Regions from separate parts of the Homo sapiens genome. Here region 2 is linked to region 1. The links come from fine-mapping of genetic effects on gene expression. A gene starts in region 1. The other region holds a variant in brackets. All regions are shown on one strand. Distances are between the middles of the regions.

Region 1 (12,780 bases):
CTGGGCACTGTCATATGAATAAATAAGATCAATAATGGTACATCCATAAACAGCCACTCCTGGAATTTCAAGACCTTAGAAAATGTTGTAAACAGACACACAAACACAAACACAACACACACACACACACACACAAACACACATACGGTATTGAAATAAATATTTAAGCCATGCCTGCAAAGCCTTCAGCAACAGAGTTCATAATGGAAATGATAGACCTTTAATGATAGAAACATTAGCAGACCGTGTAAGAATATTGTAAATCATTTCTAAGTAACAATATTGATAAGACAAGCCTTTCAAAACCACCCAGGACACCTCTTTAGCTAATTAAAACCAGAGAGTGGCTATGGCTCTTTTGTCATTCACAATATTGTAGCTCTGATCATCCCACAGTGAATGATTTTACTTCAGTAATAACCCTGATCCAACATTCAGTTAGCAATTACCACATCAGACTTTATCTACTGGTAACAACTAGTTCGGAAGATATTGCCCTGCATGCATTAATTTCATCATGCTAATAAAGTTCCCTGTTATAAAATGCAAAAACATATTAACCTGTCTAATGCAATATAAGAAACATATATATCTTTCTTGCAAAATGATACACCAGCATTTCGTTTCTATTTCAAGACTTAAGTGGGTAAAGTATATTAGAACAGAAAGTAACAAGCTATAATCTTCAGTGAACACAATAACATAAATAAGTGCCAAAAAATTTTCCTGTAATTGCAGCTATTGTAATTTGTAAACATTCTATTACCTTGGAATTTGCATAACAATGCAAGACTGCTCATTTCTAAACACTGAACACTGAAATAGAAGTATATCCATCTCGTCTTTTCTGCAAAATTCAGGGAGGCCACTGCTGGCTCCAGTTAACTCTCTTGGAGCACCTAGCACATGTGGACCGATGGAAACATTTAATAAAGACGCAGACGTGACTGAAAATGACCAGCCAGGATCTCCAGGACACAATCTCTGTCATAGAGCAAGAAATCTATAAGGACTTGTTGAATGAAGTAGGAGGGGAGCTCTATTGTTTTACTCAAGAGTAATAAGCTCTATTTATAGGTCCAGGATCTATCCTGGAGACCCTTTTCCCTTCCGCCCTCCTTTTGCCCTCCTGAGCTTGTACAGGTACCATCTCTATGTCTAAGTGAGGAATTCAAAGCAGGGATGCCTCATTTTCCCCTTGATTAGCACCCCTCACCTCTACTTCACTAACTTTCGTGTCCTACATTGATGATGGGACAAATTGGCATGGTCTATTTCTTCCCCTTCAACCCCAAGTTCCCTACTGGCTTGTTCTGCTTTCAGAATATTAAATGTGAAGAGCTTACTAATTGTTAAAATCTCAGTGGAAAAATGAGTCATGTGACTAAAACTAATATGTGGCCTTTCTCTCTTCTGTCTCCAAGGACTCATCCAAAACTGTCAACTCTTTATTAAAGCAACGCCTTGACTTTCTAGAGAAAATGACTTCACGGTGTTACTGCCAACCGTGGGAAGCCCAGTCATTCTAACGAATTTTTTTAAGTGTCTGCAGCTTAATTAAACCCTAAGCAAATTAAACACATCACCCTCTTCTGCAGGTAAAGCAGAACGTTCATATACCCACTGTTGGGGCAGTTCAATGCATCTGTACACAAAGAGCCTGGCCTCTTCCCTGGAACACTGGTCAAAGGAAAGCATTGTACAAGCTAAAGCCCATCCCCATTCAGCACCTGGGGGTTTGTCCACACCAACCAGGCAGGATTGCTCAGCTCTCTAGGGAAATGTGGCATTCACACATACAATATAGTACTGGCTGGAGGCCTAGCAAACAGTCACAGAAGTGCGGAGGATTTATAGACTGAAAATGAGCACATAGACAGCAGCTCCGAGTTCTCTCAGAAAACATGTGTGCGGCGACTGAACTGTGGGAGGCCTATGTGGGGCCCCCAGAGCTTGGCAGAACCTCTAGTGGGGACCCAGTGTGTATGTGAACATATCAGAGCTATAAATCTGGTAACAAACACTCCTTTGTGACCTTATGAAGATTGTGAAAGACAAAGGCATTTTAAGATTGCAATGTCAGGAAAGAGGGAGGCCATTTGGAAAGCTGACTTTCATATTGCTGATTCTCAACTGCTTCTAGGCTTCTTGGGTATACGTAGAAAAAGCCAGAGTGGGGCTTCACCTACAGCCCCACAAGACAGCTATGTCCACAAGGCATGACCTTCTGGAGAGAGCCGCACCTCTGAAGGTGAACACATTAATTTGATGACAGTTTCTTGTTCAGTTCAAAACACTGGCCAAGGACATCCCTTTAAAATTTATAATGAAACTAAAAAAAAATTATCCAGCCAAAATTTTACCCCATTTCATTAAATTTTATAGTCTTCATTAATTACAGGGTCATACTCAGAAAGCAACAAGTAGGCTACAAGAAGGAAACAGGGGTGGAGGTGGCAGAGCCCAGTAGACAATTAATTGACTGTACTTTGCAATTCAGGACAAAACATTTTATTTACTTGTCCCAACACATACTTAGCCTGCCCTCTGGGCTTTCATAGCTCTTTCATTCTGGAATCCAATTCCAGAGTTTATGGCCTCCAAGGTTTATGGTCCTTCCCAAGGAAGCTCTCTTCACCTATTAATATGCATCATGGTTCTTCTTCTCAGAAGGGTGGTTCTTGTGAAAGCTAAGCAATTTTTATGTAATACACACCTGAATGGGAACTTTACAATGGATTTGGGTAAGACTTTTGTTTTTTGGTGTCAGTTTTACCTGTCGTTATTAAAGAGGTAAAGAAGAAAGAGGGGAAAGGAAGAGATAAAAATAATCCTACTGTAATTTTCATATCAAATAGAGTCCCCTATTGCTTGTCTTGTGGTTTCTGGGCAGACTATTGGTCTGAAATTCTAGACCATTAACAGTTCATTTGTCTATACTTAATTTTACAATGACACCAGAAAGAACAGCAAAAATAACAATGAAGAAAACTCACAGGCCTATTGCTCTGAAACTAAAGTTGCCAGTCATTTTATTTCCCAGCATTTCTCAAGCCCATTTCTTCATTCACCAGCAACTCACCCACCATTATTAGAGAGGATTTTTTACCACCCAGGAAAGCAAATGCTGTCATCCTGATTTTACTGCTCAGAAGATACTTGTCAATTAAAATCACCTCCAGGTCTTAGCTAGGAACAAAGACCAAATTCCAGAGATTCCCCTTGTCTTTCCCAAAATAGAGTTAGAGCTCATTTCCTAAATTTGTTCTGCCATTTACATTTGGCCACACTGCAACTTGTAGACATGGGGTTACTATTCACATATTAAAACTTGCTTATTTCCAAATAAACATCTGTAACTTTAAATGCTCATATAGCCACTATATAGATTTAACTAATTCTAAGATATATCTTATATCTTATGTAAGATATATCTTGAGTAAGCATATTAAACAAATGCCTTTTCAAGTAAGAACTATTTTCATTGCTGCCTTCTGGTTTCTGAGTCATCTCTGTCTCACTCTTATAACTACATGTCTCCCAAAAGCCACCTAGTACCATAACATACGTATATATTTATAAAATGCTAGTAACATTTCATTCCTGCCTCTTTGATATGAAGGTCTTGGAAATACATGTTTTCTCTGGACTGCTGTTTTTAACAATAATAGAAAGAAAGGAGTAATAACAATCATGGCAAATATTCCTTGAGTTTTCATAATGTACCAGGCACTGAGCTAAGCATCTTTCAACATACACAATCTCACTTAATTCTTAATACTCCTGTCTAGAAGGTAGGTACTATTATGATTATTACTATTTTTTACAGAGGAATAAACTAAGGCATTTGCCTGTGTTCCAGGGATAGCCAAGGATTCAAACTTACATCTTTCCAGTTTCAGCATCCAAGCTCTAAACTGCTATATACCAGGGCATAGAAATAGGACTACCAGCCATAGCTTTGATTCAGAGGAAAAAAAAAAACAAAAACATGGCACAAATGTGTATAACATATTTAGATAGTATAGTTTAAAACTACAAATATTTTTTCTCTTTGCCAGTATAATACATGCATAATTTGTGAATTAAAACTTAATTGAGCGCACCACAATTGGAAAATTACAAAATACTTAAAACTTACATCAATTCAGCCTCCATTCCATTATCAAGAGAGAGGCTGTTTATGCATTCCTATTCTGGCAATTAAGGACAACTATGTTTTCTAAAGTGAAGGTTATTTTGACTTTGATAAGTATATAGCTCACTGTCTGATCATAAAGGGCCAGAGCTGAAGATGAATAACAGAGTACTTTGTCCTTCACTTCAGGCATGATGGCTGGACCTCTGTGGTTGTAAATCTTCCAATATTTGATGGCCACAGTGTCAGCAGCAAAATGATGCATAATAAACACAACAATACATTATATGCCACTTCTTGATTTGGTGCCAAGTCAGGGAAGGAAACAGTCTACTTTTGAATGGGTGTTCTGAAATAATACATAGACAGTGTGTATTGGAGAGATCTGAAGAGGAAAACTCAAGCTGGTTTTTCATCCCACAGTCTCCAAACTATTATTCTTTGAAACTGACTATCTGGAGTGATGTGAACCCCTCTACCACCACTGTTGGGTTGATATCAGGAAGCACAGAGTCCACAGGCTTTCATCTAGCCAGGAAAAAGGAAACAGAGCTTATTTTGAACAGGAAGGAAAAAAGATATGTGATGAAAGTCAAAGAAACAAGCTGCCTAAATCCTTGACAAAGTAGAGATGAAAGGAATGAGCTTGTGAAATAATGTGGATACCTAAAAATCATGTTTCAATCATGTTTTTAATTGTCCATTCTATCCAGAACGTTTGTTGCAAAGTCTAAAACCTTCCTTTACAATGAAAAGAGAAAATACCGTTCTAAGGCATGCATCTATAAAACGGTATTTCTCAGGCACTAAGGAAAATGCAAGCTCTAGAAAAGGAGTGATGTGGGAGAGGCACACATGGCTTCAACTGTGACAGCTGTCTCCCCATGCAACCAAATCAGAGACTGCTGGTGCAAGTGGGGACCTCAGAAGTCACTGGGTCCAACCCTGACTTTTTATAGATGACAGGCTTAAAACTGTTAAGTAACGTGCCCAAGGTCATGCTTGGGGTTGTATTGTCTGAATAACAAATGGCAAATGGACAAAAACAAAAGAGATCATAGTCTAAGTTACTCAAAGACTTTCTATAAGGAAAATGGTGGTAATTATGGTCCCTAAGTCCACTTATCTACCAAAGCTTAATATAAGACATCCAAGAAATATATATAGATACATATATAATCTATATATGTATGATTGTGTGTGTATACATATATGTATAGATATGTATATGTGTGTGTATATATATATATATACACACACACACATTTCCTAAAGCAGGAATTTTTTTTTTAAATCAGATATTCTGTGAGACATACTTGCTTTATTCAGTATCAGTTTAGGGTTTCTCACTCAGTTGTTCTTTCTAGAAAGGATATTTGTAAAGTCCAGGATTTATTCTCAAGGAGTAAAAGCAAAACCAAACATTTGTGTCCCTTTCATTTGAATCTCATGTCGAGTCTGTAAGTGCAAAAGCACTTACATATCAGTCAACCAAATTCTTACTGTCAAATCTAGATGTACAGAGCTTGCAATAGAGAAATGTAGATACTTTCTAGTTTCTCTGCATTCTACCATCTTACCCCAGGAGCTCAAAAATGACTCTACCCTTTTCTGGAAAATAGTACAAAGGAAAATTCCTGGGTTGTTTGGCTTCTCATAGTCCCAGAACTTGGGCTATATCTGAAAGTTCCAGTTGACATCTGTCCAGCACTGAACACTGGCTCCAATTCACAAGATGGCCTACCCAAGACTAATCTCCATCTACAAGTACCCTTGGAAGATGGGATGGACTCCATACAGGCCAGAGGCTGTGCATGCTCCCTGCAAATCTTGGAACTTCACCCAGGAAACATTAAGGTGGACATTCAAAATGGTAAAAAGACTCCTTCTGGCCTAAGCATCCCCTCACACACCTCTCAATGCCATAACTTACCCATAAAACAATCAGAGTTCAAGACGATAATTATTTCCCTAAGGCCAAGTTCACTATGATCTGGTCTCCAAGAACTTCTCGTTATTATCAACTACTGTGGGCCAATCCCAACTATATAATCTTTATAAGTGTTATATTCATTCATATTTCTATAAGTAATATATCTTCTTATTGCCTGCACCCTGGGCAAATTGCCTTCATATTTCCCACTCCCACCCCAGCCTGGAGAAATAGGCAACATTCAAATTGTTCTCTCAGCCCTCATCCCTCTAATGATCACCAACAAAATCCTACCTGCAACCAGGACTCTCACTTCGGAGTATAGTTTCTGAGATAAATCAAAATTTTTCTTCTCCTTCTTCCCATCCTTTCTTGGTCTTCATTTCATACAGATAATAGCATGTAGAAAAAACATGAAAGGAAAAGTGATATTCACTGAAGAGCAACTCAAGGCATATGTGTGGACACAGGGAGAGGCAACCCCTCCCAATCGGGTGGGTGTGGGTGATAGGTCATGTGTGTATAACCTCAGATCTTTGTTAGCACCAGCAGCTGGAACACACTTCTCTCTACAAATAGCAGGCTCCTGGAGTTTCTCAGCATCAGCAACAAGAGAACCTGTCAAAGAAGTGGGCCGGAGATATCGCCCTGCTTCTCATACACATAACTGAAAAAAAAGCAAAAGAAAAATATCATTTCACTGCCAGCCTAGTTTGAGTCTATATATATATATATATATATATATATATATAGTATATATATATATATATATATATACTATATATATATATATATATATATATATATATAGACTCATATATATATATATGGGGGGCAATTATGTGTACCGGACTACAGTACTGGCCAGACCCCATGAACACCTAAGGATGAATGAGGCCCAGCCCCGCCCTCACGGATATAACAATTTAGACAGAAAGATTTACATAAACGTTCATATGACTAGCTACAAATTCCTAAGCCAATGTCCAAATTAATGTACCAAGAACAACCCTAAAATAGAATAATTTTTATTTTTTCTTTTAAATAAATATTCCACGTGAAAGCTATCTATTTCAAAACACTTGCCATAATAAGGCAACACATTCTAATTCACAGTTCTGTTTTTCAAGTTTTGAATCTCATTGTAACTGCTTTCTGAGTAGTTGCGCAAGGAGGGGGGAAAACAGGAGTGGGGAAGGGAGGAGTATTTTCTCCCTAAAATTGTTTAGAATTATAGACTTGTGATGGTAATACAAAAGACACTGTATCTTAATCAGTTCTATTTCTTTAAACATTTCTATAGACAATATATCTTCTTATTGCCTGCACCCTGGGTAAACTGCCTTCATATCCCCCGCTGCCCAGCCTCTGCCTGCCACTGTTTCTGAAGGGTGTATTCATCCCAATAGGCTCAATGATGTCCAATCTATTCTTTTCACCAGATGCAGAGTCAAATCTAATGAATAAAACAGAGGGTCAAGCCTGGCAATACTACTATAGGGCAGAAAGCAAGTATGGCTTTACACTGAGAGTGTGGTTGTCAAATGCTGCCCCTGACAGCAATACCACCAGAAGAATCACTTCAATGTTTTAAGCAAAAACAGAATTGTTGAAATAGGTGTATAATCTCCTATGTTAATCTAGGCAGACCATGAACAAAAGACTGCAAAATCTCAGTGATACAATGCAAAAAAAAAAAAAATCAATTTCTCACCCCTGCTGTATTTTTCACATGGATTATCACAAGGACTCTACTCCTTGTGATATCGCACAGGTCTAGGCTGACACAAGCCCCATCTCAACATTTGCTTCCATGATGGTGGTGGCAGTGTAAGTGGATCTTTTAAAGCTTTCTCCTGGGAGTGACACAAGTCACGTCTGCTCACATTCCATTAGTTAAATAAAGTCACATGGCATACCCAACTTCCACAGTGTTGGAGGAGTAGAACCGTGCCAGGTTTTTGGCAGGAGAAAGGCCAGAATATTGGTGGGTAGCCTCTGACTAACGCCTCCCATGTATTATCATTCCTTAAAGAGGCCAAGAATCATTTGCATGTAAATTTTGGAAAATTAGTTTTAAAAAACATCCTCACTATTATATGGTCACTACCATGTGTTAGATTTCTTTACATGCCAGAGCTACAACACAGTTGAAGAAGCCATTTATTTTTATTTTTATTTATTTATTTTTTTACCCAGGCTGGAGAGCAGTGTTTTCATCTGGGCTCACTGCAACCTCCGCCTCCCAGTCTCAAGCAATTCTGCTGCCTCAGCCTCGAGGTACCTGGGACTACAGGTACACACCAATACGCCTGGCTAATTTTTTTTTTTTTTTTTTTTTTGGTTGAGCTGAGATTTTGCCATATTGCCCAGGCTATTCTTGGACTCCTAGGCTCGAGTGATCCACCCACCTTGGCCTCCCAAAGTGCTAGGATTACAGGCGGAAGCCACCACACCCAGCCTCAAGAAGCCATCTTAATGCTTGTGGTTCACTTGTAAGGTGCAGGCAGGTTTGTGAGAGGCATCTGTATGACTGACAGGGGATGCAGCGTGGCATAAAGGAGGTAGGAAGGAAGCTGCCATTCCAGGTGGACTCACCTGTGCCAAGCACTGCTTTACACTGTACACACAGTATCTCATTTACTCATCCCAACAGCCCTGCAAGGTAGGTGTCACTATCCTCATTTAAAAACTGACAGAAATGGAGACATAGCTTAAAATACACTGTGCCAGCCAATGTCATGGGTAATAATGTTCAAACTCAGATCTGCCTAGTTCCAGAAGCCATGGAGTGGGTCACGTGAGGAAGTCCAAATGATACAAATTCCCTTATTACTTTATCTGCATCCCTTTTATAGCCCTTCTAATGAGGCAACTGATTTTAAAATGAGAATGTGCTAAGCTCTCTAAGAATAGGGACTTAGCTCCATTCATCTTTGTCTGACTGGTAATGACTAGCAAATACTCTAGCACATAGTAGGTGCTCAAGAAAATATTAATTGTTAAATGCATGTTGAAAGTCAAGGCTATGCTCCAAAGCAATATTCCCTTTCTCTTCTCCTGCACAGCACATGAAAGGAGATTGACAAGATGAAATGTTTCCTTAGTGATTCTCAAGAAAGGCAAAGCTGTCAACATTTTCTTTTGTCAAGAGTGTTCACTAAGCAAGAAAATAGAGAGTAGCTCCCACAACGCAGACCTGAACGTGAAGATAATGGTCAGCAGGGCTCTGCAAGCTGTCTGAGTTCCCACTCCCAATAAGCTTTCGATAGGAACTTGCCTGCCAGAGAAACAGAGGGAACCTCATTTTGCTAGGAGACAACACACAGCTGCATAGTTCCATACTCCGCTTAATCCCAGAGACAAATTCACAAGTTGTCCTAAATGTATCACTCTACTGGGAACTCTTTTTTCTTTTCTATTTCCAACCAGTGTCTGCCATTTGATATATCACAAATAAATCATGTTTCTCTCTGTCTGTCTGACACACACACACACACACACACACACACACACACAGGCACACACAGAAATACACACACAACCTTTCTATCTTAAAAAGGTTACATTCATTTTGGGTCTCCTCTAAAACTGCCATGCAGGCCACTGGAAGTCACAACATGATATTGTTTCTTTACAAAGATACTATGATTTTCTCCTGTGGTGAAGGATTACTGCGGGCACAGCTCCATCCAAGAATCCTTTCTAAGCTTTTTCTTTTAAGCACATAAGCTATGCTTTTAATTGGGCATTTCATTAGAGTAGAATGAGGCGTAAAGGAAAACAAAATGGTCTGTAGTCATTTGTTTCAAGGAGATCATTCCAGTCATCAACGTCTGAACCCTGCCGAAGTCGTTTCAATTTTTCTTCTCAACCATGGATAAAGCAATGTTGACAACACATATTTCTCTCTGTCAAAACATTCCACTTACTTGGCAATCTATAGACAGTTTGAGAGTCGTAGCACCAACAAGCAGCGCTGGAGCATTCTTCCTATTATTTTAAAATCAAAATGGCACGTGCCTCGTGAGAGGGTTACCATGTGGGCCGAGATCCAAATTGAAAAGAAAAACGCTAACAGAGTCAGCAAGTAAACAGGGCACTGTAAATAACAAGCCTCATTACTTAGCCACAGAGAAAGATGGGCCAGCCTGCGTCCCATTTCATTGTGAGGGCTTGATCCTGTTGCCCTTAGATTTCAGTCTCCTGGGAGGCCACTCCGGGATTTCTGTGAGATGTGTGCTCAGTTAAAGTACCAAGCTTAGGTTCACAATTGTGAAACATGTTTCATACCATGGGATCTAAGTAAATGATGATTTTTGGCTGGGAGTGAGCAGAGGAAAAAGTAAAATCACTGGTTAAAGAATTGTATCCAAATACCAGAGAAAGATGGGCCCTCTAGATGTGCCTTACATAGGACAAAGAACGGGAGACCAAAATTAGACACACACTGACAAAACTGCTTATGGATCCCACAGATGACTATGGTGTAATCATCTCAAAGTGACTCATTTTCAGTGAGAAATATTTAAAAGAAATAATGCTGGAGAAAATGGCAACGTGCTGCCCAATAATGGCCTCAGGCTGCAAGATAGATACTGCAGGGCATCCAGGCCACAGCACTGGCAGAAAACAAACATTGAAGCAAAGCTGAAACACTTATTGTCAAGGCCAGAGAACATTTACCAGTCAGGAGGTTCAGATTCATGGGCATTATTGTTAAAGCTCGTGGGAGAAATACACCCAAAAAGCAGCAAAGAGAGTCGATAAAAACCCTCCAAGCAATCACCAGCTCACCAATCGGCAGCCACACATCTCCCCAGGCTCTCAGGGGAGAAGGCACTTTACCAATTACTGCTGATTGGCTGGGTTAGTGAAATTGCTCAGACCTCCTACCATTCACCTCCAGCCTATCTTTCAATATATCTTGCTGGGGTTTGCTGAACTTATTTTCATCCATTTATAAAAGGTCAACTAGGCTATGTGTTGACTTGACAGTAGTAAGTGCTTCTCCTATAATCCCTGATGATATTAGTCTGGCGGGGTTTCACAAGTGTGCGGTTGATCTTTCTTAAAAAATTCCATGATTTGCGAAGTTGGTACCAGCTGTTATCACTTTAATAGAGATCACTGTATAATTTCAAAATATCTTACTTTCTCTAAAACTATTCTGATGCTCAAAACTGTCTGGAGCTCAGAAATGTGCTTCTTGCTTCTGTCTCTTAAATGGATGGGTTAATTAACTGCAGTCATCATGCCATTAAGCTGGGCTATGACCCAGGGATCAGGCTTTACCAAAGCCGCTGCGTTCCGGAATGTTCCTATAGACACACACAGGTATGGACAAGGGGGTATGTGATGATTAATATTGAGTGTCAACTTGACTGAAGGATGCAAAGTATTGTTCAAGATGTGGTTTCATTGCTTGAGCAAATTAACACATCTCCTGGTACCTGGTATGCAGCCATTGATTTGGCAAATGACTTTTTCTCCATGCCTGTCCATAAGGCCCACCAGAAGCAATTCGCCTTCAGCTGACAAAGCCAGCAATATATCTTTGCTGTCCTACCTCAGGGGTATATCAACTCTCTGGCTTTGTGTCATAATCTTGTTTGGAGAGAACTTGATCACTTTTCCCTTCCACAAGATATCACACTGGTCCATTACATTGATGACATTACGCTGATTGGACCCAGTGAGCAAGAAGTAGGAAACACACTGGACTTACTGGTGAAATATTTGCTTGCCAGACGATGGAAAATAAATCCGAATAAACTTCAGGGAGCTTCTACCTCAGCAAAATTTCTAGGGGTCCAGTGGTGTGGGGCCTGTCCAGATATTCCTTCTAAGGTGAAGGATAAGTTGCTGCATTTAGCCCCTCCTACAACCAAGAAAGGGGCCCAACGCCTAGTGGGCCTATTCGGATTTTGGAAAAAACACATTCCTCATTTAGGTGTGTTACTCTGGCCCATTTATCAAGTGACCTGAAAGGCTTCCAGTTTTGACTGGGGTCCAGAACAGAAGAAGGCTCTGCAGCAGGTCCAGGCTGCTGTGTGAGCTGCTCTGCTACTTGGGCCATATGATCCAGCAGATCCAATGGGACTTGAGGTGTCAGTGCCAAATAGGGATGTTGTTTGGAACCTTTGGTAGGCCACCATAGGTGAATCATAGCAGATATCTCTAGGATTTTGGATAAAGGCCCTGCCACCTTCTGCAGATAACTACTCTCCTCTAGAGAGACAGCTCTTGGTCTGTTACTGGGCTTTGGTAGAAACTGAATGTTTGACTATGGGTCATCAAGTCACTGTGTGACCTGAACTGCCTATCATGAACTGGGTGCTTTCTGACCCATCTAGCCATAAAGTGGGTTGTGCACAGCAGCATTCCATTATCAAATGGAAGTGTTATATACGTGATTGGGCTCAAGCAGGTCCTGAGGGCACAAGTAAGTTACATGACGAAGTGGCTCAAATGCCCATGGTCTCCACTCCTGCCATACTGCCTTCTCGCCCTCAGCCTGCACCAATAGCCTCAGGGGGAGTTCCCTATGATCAGTTGACAGAGGAAGAGAAGACTAGGGCCTGATTTACAGATGGCTCTGCATGATATGCCGGCACCACCTGAAAGTGGACAGCTGCAGCACTATAGCTCCTTTCTAGGACATCCCTGAAGGACAGTAGAGAAGGGGAATCTTCTTCCCAGCGGGCAG
Region 2 (12,780 bases), 39 kb before region 1:
TGAATAGCCTGTCCTTTGGCCCTATTGTATGTTCTTGGCATCTTGAAATTGAGTTGGCTATAAATGTATGGATTTGTATCTGGGTTTTCTAATCTATTCCATTGGTCTGGTCTGTGTGTCTGTTTTTATGCCAGTACCAGGCTGATTTGGTTACTATAGCTTAGTATTATATTTTGAAGTCAGGTAGTATGATGCCTCCACTTTACTGTTTTTGCTCAAGATTGCCTTAACTATTCAGGGTCTTTTGTGGTTCCATATAATTCTTTTGTTTTTCCTATTTCTATGAAGGATGTCATTAGTATTTTGATAGGGATTGCATTGACTCTGTAAGTTGCTTTGGTTTGTATTGTCATTTTAACAATATTAATTTGACTTCCTTCTTTACAATTTGGATGCCCTTTATTTCTTTCTATTTCCTAATTGCTCTGGTTAGGACTTCGGGTATTACATTGAATAAAAGTGGTGCAAGTGGGCATGCTTATCTCACTCCAGAACTTAGAGGAAAAGCTTTCCATTTTCCCCTTTTTGGTACTATGTTAGCTGTGGGTTTGTCACATGTGGTCTTTATTATTCTGAGGTACGTTTTTTCTATACCTAGTTTGTTGAGGATTTTTGTTCATAAGGCGATGTTGAAATTTATCAAATGCTTTTTAGCATCTATTGAAATGATCATATGGTTTTTGTTTTTGGTTCTGTTAATGTAATGTGTTACAGTTATTGATTTGCATATGTTGAATTATTCTTGTATTTCTGGGCTGAATACCACTTGATCATCGTGAATGATGTTTTTAATGTTGTATCAGTCTGTTTCTTTGTTTTGTTTTGTTGCATTGCAATAAAGAAATACCTAAAGCTGGGTCATTTATAAGGTAAAAGATTAATTGGATTATGGTTCTGCCGGCTGTACAGGAAGTATGGCACTGGCATCTGCTCCTGGTGAGGGCCTCAGGAAGCTTCCGGTCATGGTGGAAGGCAAAGAGGGAGCAGGTGCCTCACATGGCAAGAGTGGGAGTGAGAGAGAAAAGTGGGAGATCCCTGACTGTTTTTAACAACCAGATATTGAGAGAACTAACTGAGCAAGAACTTACTCCTCACCAGAGTGAGGGCACTAAGCCATTCAGGAAGAATCCACCCTATGATCAATACCTCCCACTATACCCCGCCTCCAACAATAGAGGTCACATTTCACCATGAGATTTGGGGGGAACACATGTCCAAACATTATCAAATGTGTTGCTGGATTTGGATTGCTAGTATTTTGTTGAGGATTTGTGCATCTGTGTTCATCAATGATACTGACCTGTAGTTTTCTTTTTTTGTTGCATCTGTGTCTGGTTTTGGTATCAGGGTAATGCTCACCTTGTAGAATGATTTTGGAAATATTCCGTCCTCTTCAATTTTTTGGAAGAGTTGAGTAGAATTGGTATTAGTTCTTTAAATGCTTGATAGAATTCATCAGTGAAGCCATCGGATCCTAGGCTTTTCTTTGATGGGAGTTTTTTTTGTTATGGTTTTGATCTTGTTGCTTATTTTTTTGTTGTTACTGTTGCTGAAGTTTTCTACTCCTTTATGTTTCAATCTTAGTAAGCTGTATGTTTACCAGAATTTACCCATTTCTTCCAGGTTTTCCAGTCTGTGGGTGTACAGTTCTTCATAATAGTCTCTAATGGTTCTTTGTATTTCTGTGGTCTGAGTTATTATGTTTCCTTTTTCTTCTCTGATTTTACTTATTTGGGTAATCTCTCTTTTTTTAATTAATCTAGCTAAAGGTTTGTCAATTTTGTTTATCTTTTCAAAAGAACAAAACTGAGACTAAAAAACACAATCTAGCATATCAACAAAAAAGTTGTATTTTTTTTTAAAGATAAACAAAATTGACAAATCTTTAGCTAGACTAAACAAAGGTAGACTCTCGTCTCTACCTGGCCCATCTTCCTAGTACAGGTTGAGCATCCCTAATTTGAAATCCTATATCTGAAATGCTTCAAAATCTGAAATACTCCTAAATCCAAAATGTTTTGAGTGCCAACATGATGCCACAAGTAGAAAAGTCAACACCTGACCTCATGTGATAAATGCACAAAATTATTTAAAATATTGAATAAAATTACCTTCAGGCTTTGTGTATAAGATATATATGAAACATAAATGAATTTTGTGTTTAGACTTGGGACTCAACCACAGATATCCATTCTATGTATATATATGCAAATATTCCAAAACGCAAACATTCAAAAAATCCTTCTTATTTTCTCTATTCAAATCACAATGACCATCCTTTTCTCAAAACTCTTTATATTTCATATTGTCTATTAAGACTTTCTCCATTAAGAATATCAAGCCCTTGCCACCCCACTTACCCAGGAACCCCTCTGCCCCTCATATTGCAAGCTTCTTTCCTAGCTTTGTTATCACTGGGGCTGAAATGTTTTACATAATGGATCAGAATCAAAAAGCAGAGAAGACCTTGGTATAGGGCAAGAGAAAGAGGTGGAAGCAATCAGGAAAGAGGTCAGGGAATGAAGAAGACTTCAGTTGCTTCTCAATTCACTGTAAGGAGTTTTGTTTTGTTTTGTTTTAACCCATGAAGACTCTTTATGCACTCAGGATCGAAAAAAAAACCATAAAGAGGAAGAATTTGAGGAAAGATCATTCCAATTAAAACAGTCTAACTAGGATTAAAAGAGGCACTTTTAACACATGGAGTAGAATGGAAACTGCCCCTACAGGGCATTTTTAGTATTCCTATAAGGTTTAAAGTTGTCCTTCAGTCCGGTACATAGATTGAATCTCGGCTCAACTCCCAGAACCAACACCCATTCTCACAAAGTCCATGGTCTATAGGAGAATATCCTTAGGCCTGTCTTTGCTCATCTTATCACCAGAGTCTTAAGAGTTTACTGAGCTCAATATGCTTTCTTTAAGTCCTACTTCTCAGGTCATCTTTAGTTTCTCAGAAAACCACGAAATGCTTACCTATAGGCAATAAGAACAATGTGGCTGCCTTGCCTTTAACTTCTTCTCGGCCCTGCCTGCCATTCTGATCCCATTATAATAAAATCTATTACAGAAATCCCTTTCAGCATCTCTTATATTTAAAAGCAGTTACTGTGTTGCCTGCCAGCCAAGTAGAATGTCATAAAGGCCACTATCAAAGAAGGTAAAATGATAAAACAACATCCACAATAGAAAAGGAAAAACTAATGAGCCACTGACCTTAATACATTTATGTATCCCAGGGTTAGTTACGTGAAAATCCTTGAAACTTCTTTGAGTTATTAAAGAGACAATTTATTGGTTGAGTCATTAAGCCTTTTTAAAATACTCTTGGGGGGCAACATAGTTACTATGTCTTGGAATTTTATCCAGATTGCAAAAGAGCATCAGGGTTGAATATGAAATATCAGGATGTCTCAATAGGGATAAACCCAGCACAGAAAATATGAAGGTGGGGATGGTCAGAGAACCAGGCCACAGGTGGTATCAAGCAGGCTGTCAGCAAGTAGCCAAGCCCAGCCATGTTTTTTTGAAACTCTCAGCCAAGACTCTAATCACTGGCAGGGTGCATTAGTTAAGCCTTTTGCAAAATTGAAGATACATAAAATTCAATGCAAATTTGTTTAAGCAAAGTAGAAAATAAACTGGCTCGGAGTTGGCTTAAGACATGGCTGCATGAAAGGACCCAAATGATGTTACCAAATATTCTCCATCTGTCCTCCTCTGCTTGGCTCTACTCTCCTCTGTATATTGGCTTCATTTTTTAACAGTTACCTTCAATGTCACAGAAATGGTTGCTGAAGCTCTAGATCATGCAGCTTCTTCTATCTTAGCCTGCATAAACTAAAGCACGGGTTTCTTGGTAGATCCTACAAAAGTGCTCTCCTTCTGACTCTGATAGAACCTGCCTGTGTCACATGCCTAGCCTTAAACCAATGACAAGGGCTTGTGAAACATGAATGACAGAACTGGGTCATGTGTTCCATCCCTGCAAGTGGGGAAGGCATGGGATGCAGTTACTGAAGAAGGCAAAGTGGGTAAGTGACACCTATAAATACTCCTGGGCCCCAGTGCTGGGAGAGTGAGTATATGGACAAAAAAAAAAAAAAAAGATAGGAGCACCCAGAAGAGCAGAAGACAAAAATCATTTTGTCAAAATTTTCCACAAGATTGAAGCCTAGTTATTACAATAGTGACAAAAAGTCAACAGCAGAGTAACAGCAAGAAGTGATTTAGGTAAAACTCCAAAACTCCATGATGTAAAGGTCAGGATCTGTCTTAGTTTCTCGTAAAGGTATGGTCATGTACCCGATTTATGGCAAGAGGAGCACTTCAGAGGCAGGCCTTATATTCTTCTGCTGAAGACTCAAACTGGGTCCCAAGTAAGAAAGATTAGCTTCATCCAGTTTACTTAAATTTCTTGTCAATGAATATGAGGACACAGTGCCCAGCCATTCAGTTTTTATGACCCATGGAAAAGTCATTCTGAAGAAAGCAATGGTTCCATGCAAGTTCATGAAATTGTAAAATCTTTGCAAATTCTGCCCAAACTACAAGATAATGAATAAACAAATTAAACCAAGCATAGGAGAGCAACTGAATGCCTCAATTTGGATTCTGAATGTGTGTCTTATCCCAATTCCTACCCAAAGATGCAAATCAAAAGCTTGAGAGAAAAGGGCACTCAGTAACTGGCCTTGTGTGTGTCAGCTGGGGGCTGTCTAATAGATGATGACAGCCTAACCCCCCTCCTGGACAGCATCATGACAGGTCTGGATACTTGAAATCATCAGCTTCCAGAGGTGAGGCTCCAAGCAGCTATTGCCAGGCATGAGCAAAACACAGACTCATGTGCAGCAAGCAGCATGCTACACCCCAAGAGCGTCAACTGAATGGGACAGGGAAGGGGGTGAGTTGTGTTCAGATCCTGATTCCCACACTAAGCTCGAATCTATCATAAGCAAGTACATACTTACTGCCAGCAGAGCTTTCAAGAGCGCTGTCAGAGAGTTTTGTTTTCCAGAGCTCTTCCCACCTGGACCTTCTGTCCTTGTTGGAACAGATTCTCTAACTCTCCATGGGATAAGGCAGGTCCTTATTCCAACCAGTCACAGCTGATTGCACTTCATCCCACAGTTCTACATGGAATATCTGAATAACAAACTTATGTTTAATTTAGTATTCTCATTCTAACTAGATTTGGTTTTATATACCTAGATTGGTTTGAAAAATAGAGTAGTCTTACCTTAAATCTGAGTATGATCTAAGAATGTGCTAACATTCCTTGTCCAAATATCAATTTCCTGCCATGCTTAAAGTTGGATCTGTTTCCAAAATCCCTTGTAAATTTAAATTATTTAGTACATTTATTGATTAAAACATTAAAGCATGTATTGACATTTAATATGAATGAGTTTACGTGTTATACCACCAAATAGGTAGCATATTCATTCAAGAGAGAAACAGAAAATTAAATAACTTTTGCACCTGCACAGCACTTGGAGAAGGGCCAGTGACTTTCCTTACTCCTTACCTGAACCCATGTGACCACCATCTGCATTCTCTGCTTTATTCTGGGTTCTGGAATCAATCTCCTTCTTAGACAGGGTAACTGTTGTAAGCTACGCAGGCCAGTACTGAAGGGTCAGCATCAAATCACACTTGCTGTTAGTCCCACTCCAACCCAATCAAGTAAGCAGCCTTCCAAAAACTATACCCAGGCTGGATCCCATACCCCTGACTGAATCTCTAGGTAAGCAATATGTCCTATGCCTTGATTCCTCTAGACTAGAAGCCCTGTCCTCTTCTTGCCAGTCACTTCCCCAGTTCCTGGGGACTCAGTTTTTCTACCATAAATCAGACCTCCTTGCAGCTCTTCAAATGCTTCCTCCCAGACACCTCATTGTTTGCTCCACCTCTCTGTCAGTATAATCTTCTTACCTCTTTTAGACAGCCCGATGCCTCTGACTTGCTAAGAAACCACTTGCATCCACTTACCAATTACAATATGCTATAGGATATGTTTCATCCACCTGGTTTACCTTTCTTGCTCCCCTAAAGGGTGGCCAGGGCCTGCCCTACCTATGGCTGTGAACTCTGCCTTTCCTGGCCACTTCACTACATACAGCTCATTTTGTATATAGCAGGTACTCACCAATGGC[A/G]TTTGTTTGTTTTGTTTTGGTATCTTGAAATAATTAGTTGAAAATGAGAAAATGGTCATCTCATTCTTAGCCCGAATGTGCAGTATTTCCAAATACCTGAAGCCAAGCATTATTTTCCTTTTCAGACAACAGAAAAACATATTAGTTAATTTCTTGTGCCAACACTAAATTTTCCCATCATGCAGATCAGCATTCTTAAGCTTTGCCACTGAAAAAGCCTTTGCTTCAGAGGACATTATTCCTGTGTCAGACTTGCTTCCCGACATGCTGAAAGTCCCTTTGAATTCAAATGTTTTATCCTAAAAATAAAGATTTAGTTTCTACCTCATAATATATACTTTTTTGCATTTTAAAATACTTAATTACTTACCCTCAAGTAGAGTTGTAGCTACTTCAAGAATGTGGATTCCATTTATTCTGTGGTTTCATACATCCCTTCATACATATTTCTGTTTCCACAGCATGTACTCATGCCTTAGGCTGATAATCCCTGTAGAATGAGATTAATATTCTTTTCAGAAGAAAATCTTATGATCTATTGGAATGAACATAAATATAATTGACAAAGTCTGCCTCCTTTTGCCTCCTTAAAAAAAATAGCATATTTTCTCTTACTCCATGTCCTCTATGAAACAGGACAGTTATATTTCCCTAAGAATGCTATGAAGTTGAAAAGCTTCCTTCTGTTGAAGTTTCTAAAGGAAAATAGCTATTCTTGGCTACCTCAAATAAAATGAAATATGTGATGTTATTTTTATTCCTAACTTTACTGAAAACGCATTAAATCCATGTACTAATTTTGGACCTACATCCCTATCTATAATTAGTAGTAGTAATATCAATACAGGCTTTTTAAAGCTTTTTAAAAATATTTAATCTTTGGCTCCTACCTTACAGAGGAAAAAAATTTAAACATGATATATTTGAAGTAAAAGTCAACTTTACTGACAGATTAAAACACTTTTTGAAGCCCATTAATTAGAAAATTTTTATGTCAATTAAGATCTTTGAACAGATAATATAGTCCAAAAATGTTACTTTAATGGGAATTTGATGAACCTTTACACAGAAGACTTAAAACAAAACAAATGTCAATTGCTCTGGGAGTGTAGTTCTTTAAAAATGAATAGACAATTTCTATTACACAGTAAAGTTTTACAAAACTGTAGCATGAAAAGAAGTATTACAATTTGGTGGAGTGGGAAGAAAGGCAGGCTAGCAATCAGAATGTCACATTTCACAATTCAAGAGATCATAGTCCTGGAGATTCCTCCAGTCCTTGTTGGCCTTACCATGTCCTTGAGCACTGGATATAACCCTCTTTGCAGGAAAAGGAGAAGAGAGAAAAAAAGGCCTCTTTGAAAAGCAGTAGTAAAGGAGTCCCTGGAGTATTTCTGAGCTCTTGAAACAAGCTTCATGGCAACAGCTTGATTCTGCTTCGTGCTTCGGTGAAGGATGCTGAAATAGGAATTGGGAGTGAAGCACTGAACTATTTGCAAGTTCATGTTAAAATATGATTTCCCGGTTCAAGAATAAAATTGATTCAGAATTAAATCAAAATAGTGATTTAAAGGTTCCCTACAAAAGAACTCGGTGCATTAAATAAGCACCAACCACCTTTGTTCTTACAAGTAGTCTCATGCAGGAAGATGTAGAGAAGATTCCATCATCTCCAATGTTGGAGAGAGAAAAATGTCTGCAGAATACAGTATCTCACCAATGGTCATAATACCGATGTCATTAAAAGTTACATATGGAAATTTCTTCTCAGGTCAGTATCCAATCATCCATATTATACCACTTACAGTTTATTTTTAAATTTTAATAAATCAGTATAATGCCTTCTTTACTGTTATAAAATTCCTTTCTCATTCCAAAGTACATACCCTAAAAACAAACAAGCCTGAAAAACAGACAATGGGGTGAGTGGCGGGGGGGGAATGTATAATGTATAAAATAGTATAAATTTCTTTGTGTCAAATATTTCATACAGATACTACCTGTATCTGTCTTTAGGCACTTTTAATGTGTGGCTCTGTGTTCTCTTATTCACTTCTCAGTTCCCATCAATTGTAAGACACAGCAACTTAACAACACCTTTTGGGGGAATGGATACACAATTAAATTTAAAACTAACTGATAAATACTAAACAACTAGTAACCCTTTTATTCTTCAGTATCAAGATCAGTTCGATCAGTAATAAAACTCCTAATGTGAAAATGAACAGAAAACCATTCATAAAGAGCAGTGTGGATATTTTATATATAAATTAGCTCTGTCTCACTTATAATAAAAATAAATCTAGAAGATGCGTTTTACATTTAAAAAGTCAGTTTGAGTAGAAATGCCCTTCCATTTCAAAAGTCTAAAGATTCTTCATCATCACTTTTGGCCATCATACCATCATGATGCCACACTTTTTAAGCCATACTTTCAAATCTTTTTCTATATAGCAACTTTAGTATTGATAGTATAATTCCAAGTGTTTACTCTGCGCTTCTTATGTGATCACAATTGTTGGGTTTTTTTAATTTCCTTATTGAATTAGTTACTAAAAGTCAAACAACTTCTCTTGACTGTCACCTGGAAGCTGATGATGATGGTGGATATTCAGTGACAGCTCTTCATAAAATATGAATTGTTCCTGAAAACTGTCCTAGCTTGTGATTAAAAAAAAAAAAGAAGAAGCTTTATCCACAAGTGGTAATTTCCACCACCTAATTCTATTGCCTGGGATTGGACAGTCATCTGCATTCATGTTCTTATTCAGTGCTACACCATGGTATGACATTTTCAAAGGTATTTACATGGCACATGGTGTTATAAGTACCAGTAACATAGCTGAGGGACCATAAAATTAACTGATACCTTCTGTGCATGAAAAAGTTCATATATTCACAGAAAATGTGCCCTAAGTTTTAGTCCTCTTATTGTTAGCTAGGTAATTTATTTTGATATTAATAAAATATAATAGAAAGTCTCAGTTCCAGGAACTACTCTGAAACATAGACCTAAGAGGAATTCACAGGGGCATTACACAAAGTGACAGCATTTTGCTAATGGACTGTTAGCCATAGATACCCTCTACGGAAGACTGACTGGCCTCTATCTGGCAAAGTTTTTCTTGTTGTTGTTTGTTTGTTTGTTTTTTAGGGGGTGCAATAGACGGATTTCTAAGGCAGCCTCTTAAAAATGCCCTGCCCTACCCCCCAGAAACTGTGACTACAGGATATCACACACGAGTATGTTTGTTACATGACAAAAGGGACTTTGCAGATGTAATGAAGGCCACTTGTCAGTTGACTTTAAGATGGGAAGATTATACTGGTTTATCTTGGTAGGCACAATATAATCACATGAGCCCTTAAAACCAGACAACGTTTTCTGGCTTATGACAGGGAGGAAGGCAAAGGGAAAGTCAGAAAGAGTCAGAGCAGAGGAAGAATTCAGTGTAACACTGCTGGATGAAAGATGGAGGGGGCCACATGAGAAGGGACTCAGGGGGCCCTTGTAGCAGACAGTGGACCCTAGCTGACAGCCAGTAAGGAAATGGGAATCTCAGTTCCACACTGCAAAAAAAAAAAAAAAAAAAAGATTCTGCCAACAATCTGAATAGGCTTGGAAACTGATTCATCCCCAGAACCTCTCAGAAAGAGTCCAGCCTGACGGAAACCTTGATCTGGCCCTTGGGAGACCCTGAGCAGAGAACCCTATTAAACCTACAAAGATTCTGACATACAGAACTGTGGGTGTTGTTTTAAGCCAGAGTGTTTGTGATCATTTGTTGCCGCAGCAGGAGGAAACTAGCACAGGCAGACTGCACATGGAGCAGGAGGAGAGGATGGAGACTGTAGTCCAGACAGCCTGAAAAGATAGTGTAGTCCAGTTGATCGAGGGGATGATTGGTGTCCTAGCTGTTTCACCTCTACCTACCAGACATAGAGGTAACAACATAACCTGTGAGATATGCATGTGAACCATCAGAGTATAGCTATCTATATATATAATTAAGGTTTTGTAGGGTTTCTCTTTTTAGGAAAGAAGTATAAGCAGTTGTTCTTACAAATCCGAATTTTAAGTGATATTATTTTTTAAAAAGAATTATTCCTCATCTAGAACTTCAGAAGTCAAAAAACCTTAAGATCCACATCAAAATGGTTTTAACGGTGTTTTTGCCTAACTCAGTAAACATAAAATTCAACATATCATACATCATGCCAGGCATTTTCCCACTTTCTCAATGATTTCTGTCGATTCAGTTTACTCATACCTACATTTTTCACCCAAAACAACTATTCCCTTTTCTAAAAGAGTGGACATCTGCTCACCTCAAAAACAACTATTCCCTTTTCTAAAAGAGGGGACATCTGTTCTTATTCAACCAGTATTGATTAAATGACCCTATTAGATGCCAAAACATTCTACTATTAATAAAAACTGATCGAAGCTGAACAAGATATAATCCCTTCTTTCAAGGAGATTCAAGAGATCTAGTATGGAGGACGTAAAACAAGAAAATATTCACTTACTAAGCTATCACAGGTCTAAAGAAGAAACCTAGAAACTGGAAACTGGATGATAAATAACTTGTGGAGGTTTAAAGTGTCACAGTGCAGAGACAGAATGTGAAGCCTTGTCATAGCTGTATATTTAAGTTTTTAGTTCACCTTTAAAACTTTTCTCTAGATATACAAATCATGACAGATGTGATGAATAAATTCCACAAGTGAAAAACACAGGTGAGGAAAATACCAAGTGTTATAATTTCATCTATAAACAGCTCAGTCTAATCAAGAGACAAAATGGTCAGAAAGCATTTGATCTGTTTTTTTTTCTTGATATTATTAGTTCTATAGCTAATACAATGTTTTCAGAGCTGGGGTTTATTTTTCTGACTTGTGTTATTAATTTGTTAGTATAAATTTGCACCTGTCAACACAGATTTACAGCAATGGAACTACCTACCACAAACATTATAGGCTTCAAGGACACTCAGTTAAGAGCTTGAAACACTTAAATTGCTTTAACACTTGCTACTATATTTCAGTTTTACTTATATGAAAACATAAATAGCTAGAGTCCTGATAGAAGAAAAAATTATTTTGGTAATACTTCTGATTTTCCTCCCGATTTTTCTTTCGAATTCCAAGGTTATTTTCATCTGTGAATCACTGCTTCCAAAACCAAATAATGATGATAGTAACTCTGCCCACATGGGGATATGGCAGGAAACAGGGCTAAATTTCACTTCCTACCATAGAGCAGTTCAAACGCAAAAACATTTGTATGCTTTGAAGTCATACCAACTCAGATCCTTTGCAGAATTTTTTTAGTAAATGCACTAAAAAGGGAAAATTTAAAAGGGGATTCATGTGCTTGGAATTGAACTGTGACATTAACTGAAAATATGAAATGATTCCTGCCCACAAGAAGTATTCAAGGTAGTTGACAGTAGAACAATACACTGAGTTTGACTGTAGGGACTACCTTCCATTCCCACTGCTCCTCATCTAATCCAGGCCTTCATCATCTCTTGCCAGGACAACTGCAAAAGTCTCTCAACTGCCCACCTGTCTACTACTCAAACACCTTTCAAATAGTATCCATCCCTGCTGTATACAGACTTAATCAAAATTCTTTGTTTGGATTATATTGCTTCCCTGATTAAAAGCATTTGATGGCATAGAAATGAATAAAATTCAAACTCAGTAAGCACTAAAGAAACCTATTTCCTGCCTTCTTCCCAACTCTCTCTCTCTCTAGCCTCTTCTCTTTAACCCCCTAGTCCTGCCATTTTAATGCATGATCCAACCAATCTTAGCTTTTTTGCCTTTATGCACCACACCTGGCTGTTTCATACCTCCAATGCCTTCTTGTTGCCTGGAGTGTTTTCTCTTCCACTCCCACACACTCTTACCCCAGTCTCCACAGGTAGAAGAGACCATCTCCTCCTTTGTGTTGCCTCGGTATCCTCCATAGACTTCCTTCCATCAGACCTTTGTCATCCAGGCTGGAGTGCAGTGGTGCCATCACAGCTCAGAGTAATCTCAAACTTCTGGGCTCAAGTGATCCTCCCGTCTCGGCCTCCTGAGTAGTTGGGACTACAGGCATGCACCACCACTATGTTTGGCTAATTGTTTCATCTGTTAAAATCTGTTGAGCAAACAAGGTCTCACTATGTTATCCAGGCTATTCTTGAACTCCTAGGCATAAGTGATTCTCCTACCTCTGCCTCCTAAATTGCTAGGATTATAGGCGTGAGCCACTATGCCCCGCCACCATCAGACCTCTTATAATGGATTTGGAGATACCTTTCTTTTCAGGTCTATACTCTATATTAACCTACAATAAGGCAGGGGTCATGTCTTCTTCTTTGTATCTCTCAGAACTGTCTAACTGTCTTCAAGGACATTAAAACATTGCTAGAAATAGAAAACCCATATATGAAACAACTACAAATACAAACAAACAGTATAAAAAGAAATGTTAAAGTATATGTATCATGCTCTGTCCACATTGAAAGTTCTATGAAGTCACAAGGTATGGTAGAAAGAGTTTTAGTGTTAGACAGACGTGAATTCACATCCTGACTCTTCCACCTCCCAGGTGTGTGAGCATACA

Which allele goes with the higher level. Alleles are on the strand shown, and positions count from the first base shown. SD is a standard deviation of normalised expression in the study named.
For the expression in atrial appendage of the gene that starts at base 6,562 in region 1, G is the high allele of the variant in region 2 and A is the other (moderate effect, 0.40 SD a copy in GTEx).

Evidence for each region. PIP is the estimated chance that this variant, and not a neighbour inherited with it, causes the effect.
Region 2: its variant is fine-mapped to the expression of LINC02208 in atrial appendage (GTEx, PIP above 0.99).

The regions. Positions count from the first base shown.
Region 1 is chr5:118,555,556-118,568,335 of GRCh38, forward strand. It overlaps LINC02208 (long intergenic non-protein coding RNA 2208), which reads right to left and starts at 6,562. Exons shown (of 10, transcript NR_104610.1): 1 at 6,366-6,562.
Region 2 is chr5:118,516,199-118,528,978 of GRCh38, forward strand. LINC02208 (long intergenic non-protein coding RNA 2208) reads right to left here. Exons shown (of 10, transcript NR_104610.1): 2 at 7,451-7,616; 3 at 4,974-6,648. Among named protein-coding and RNA genes, the nearest start is that of LINC02208, 40 kb to the right of the region's middle. The variant A/G (reference allele first, on the strand shown) is at 6,159.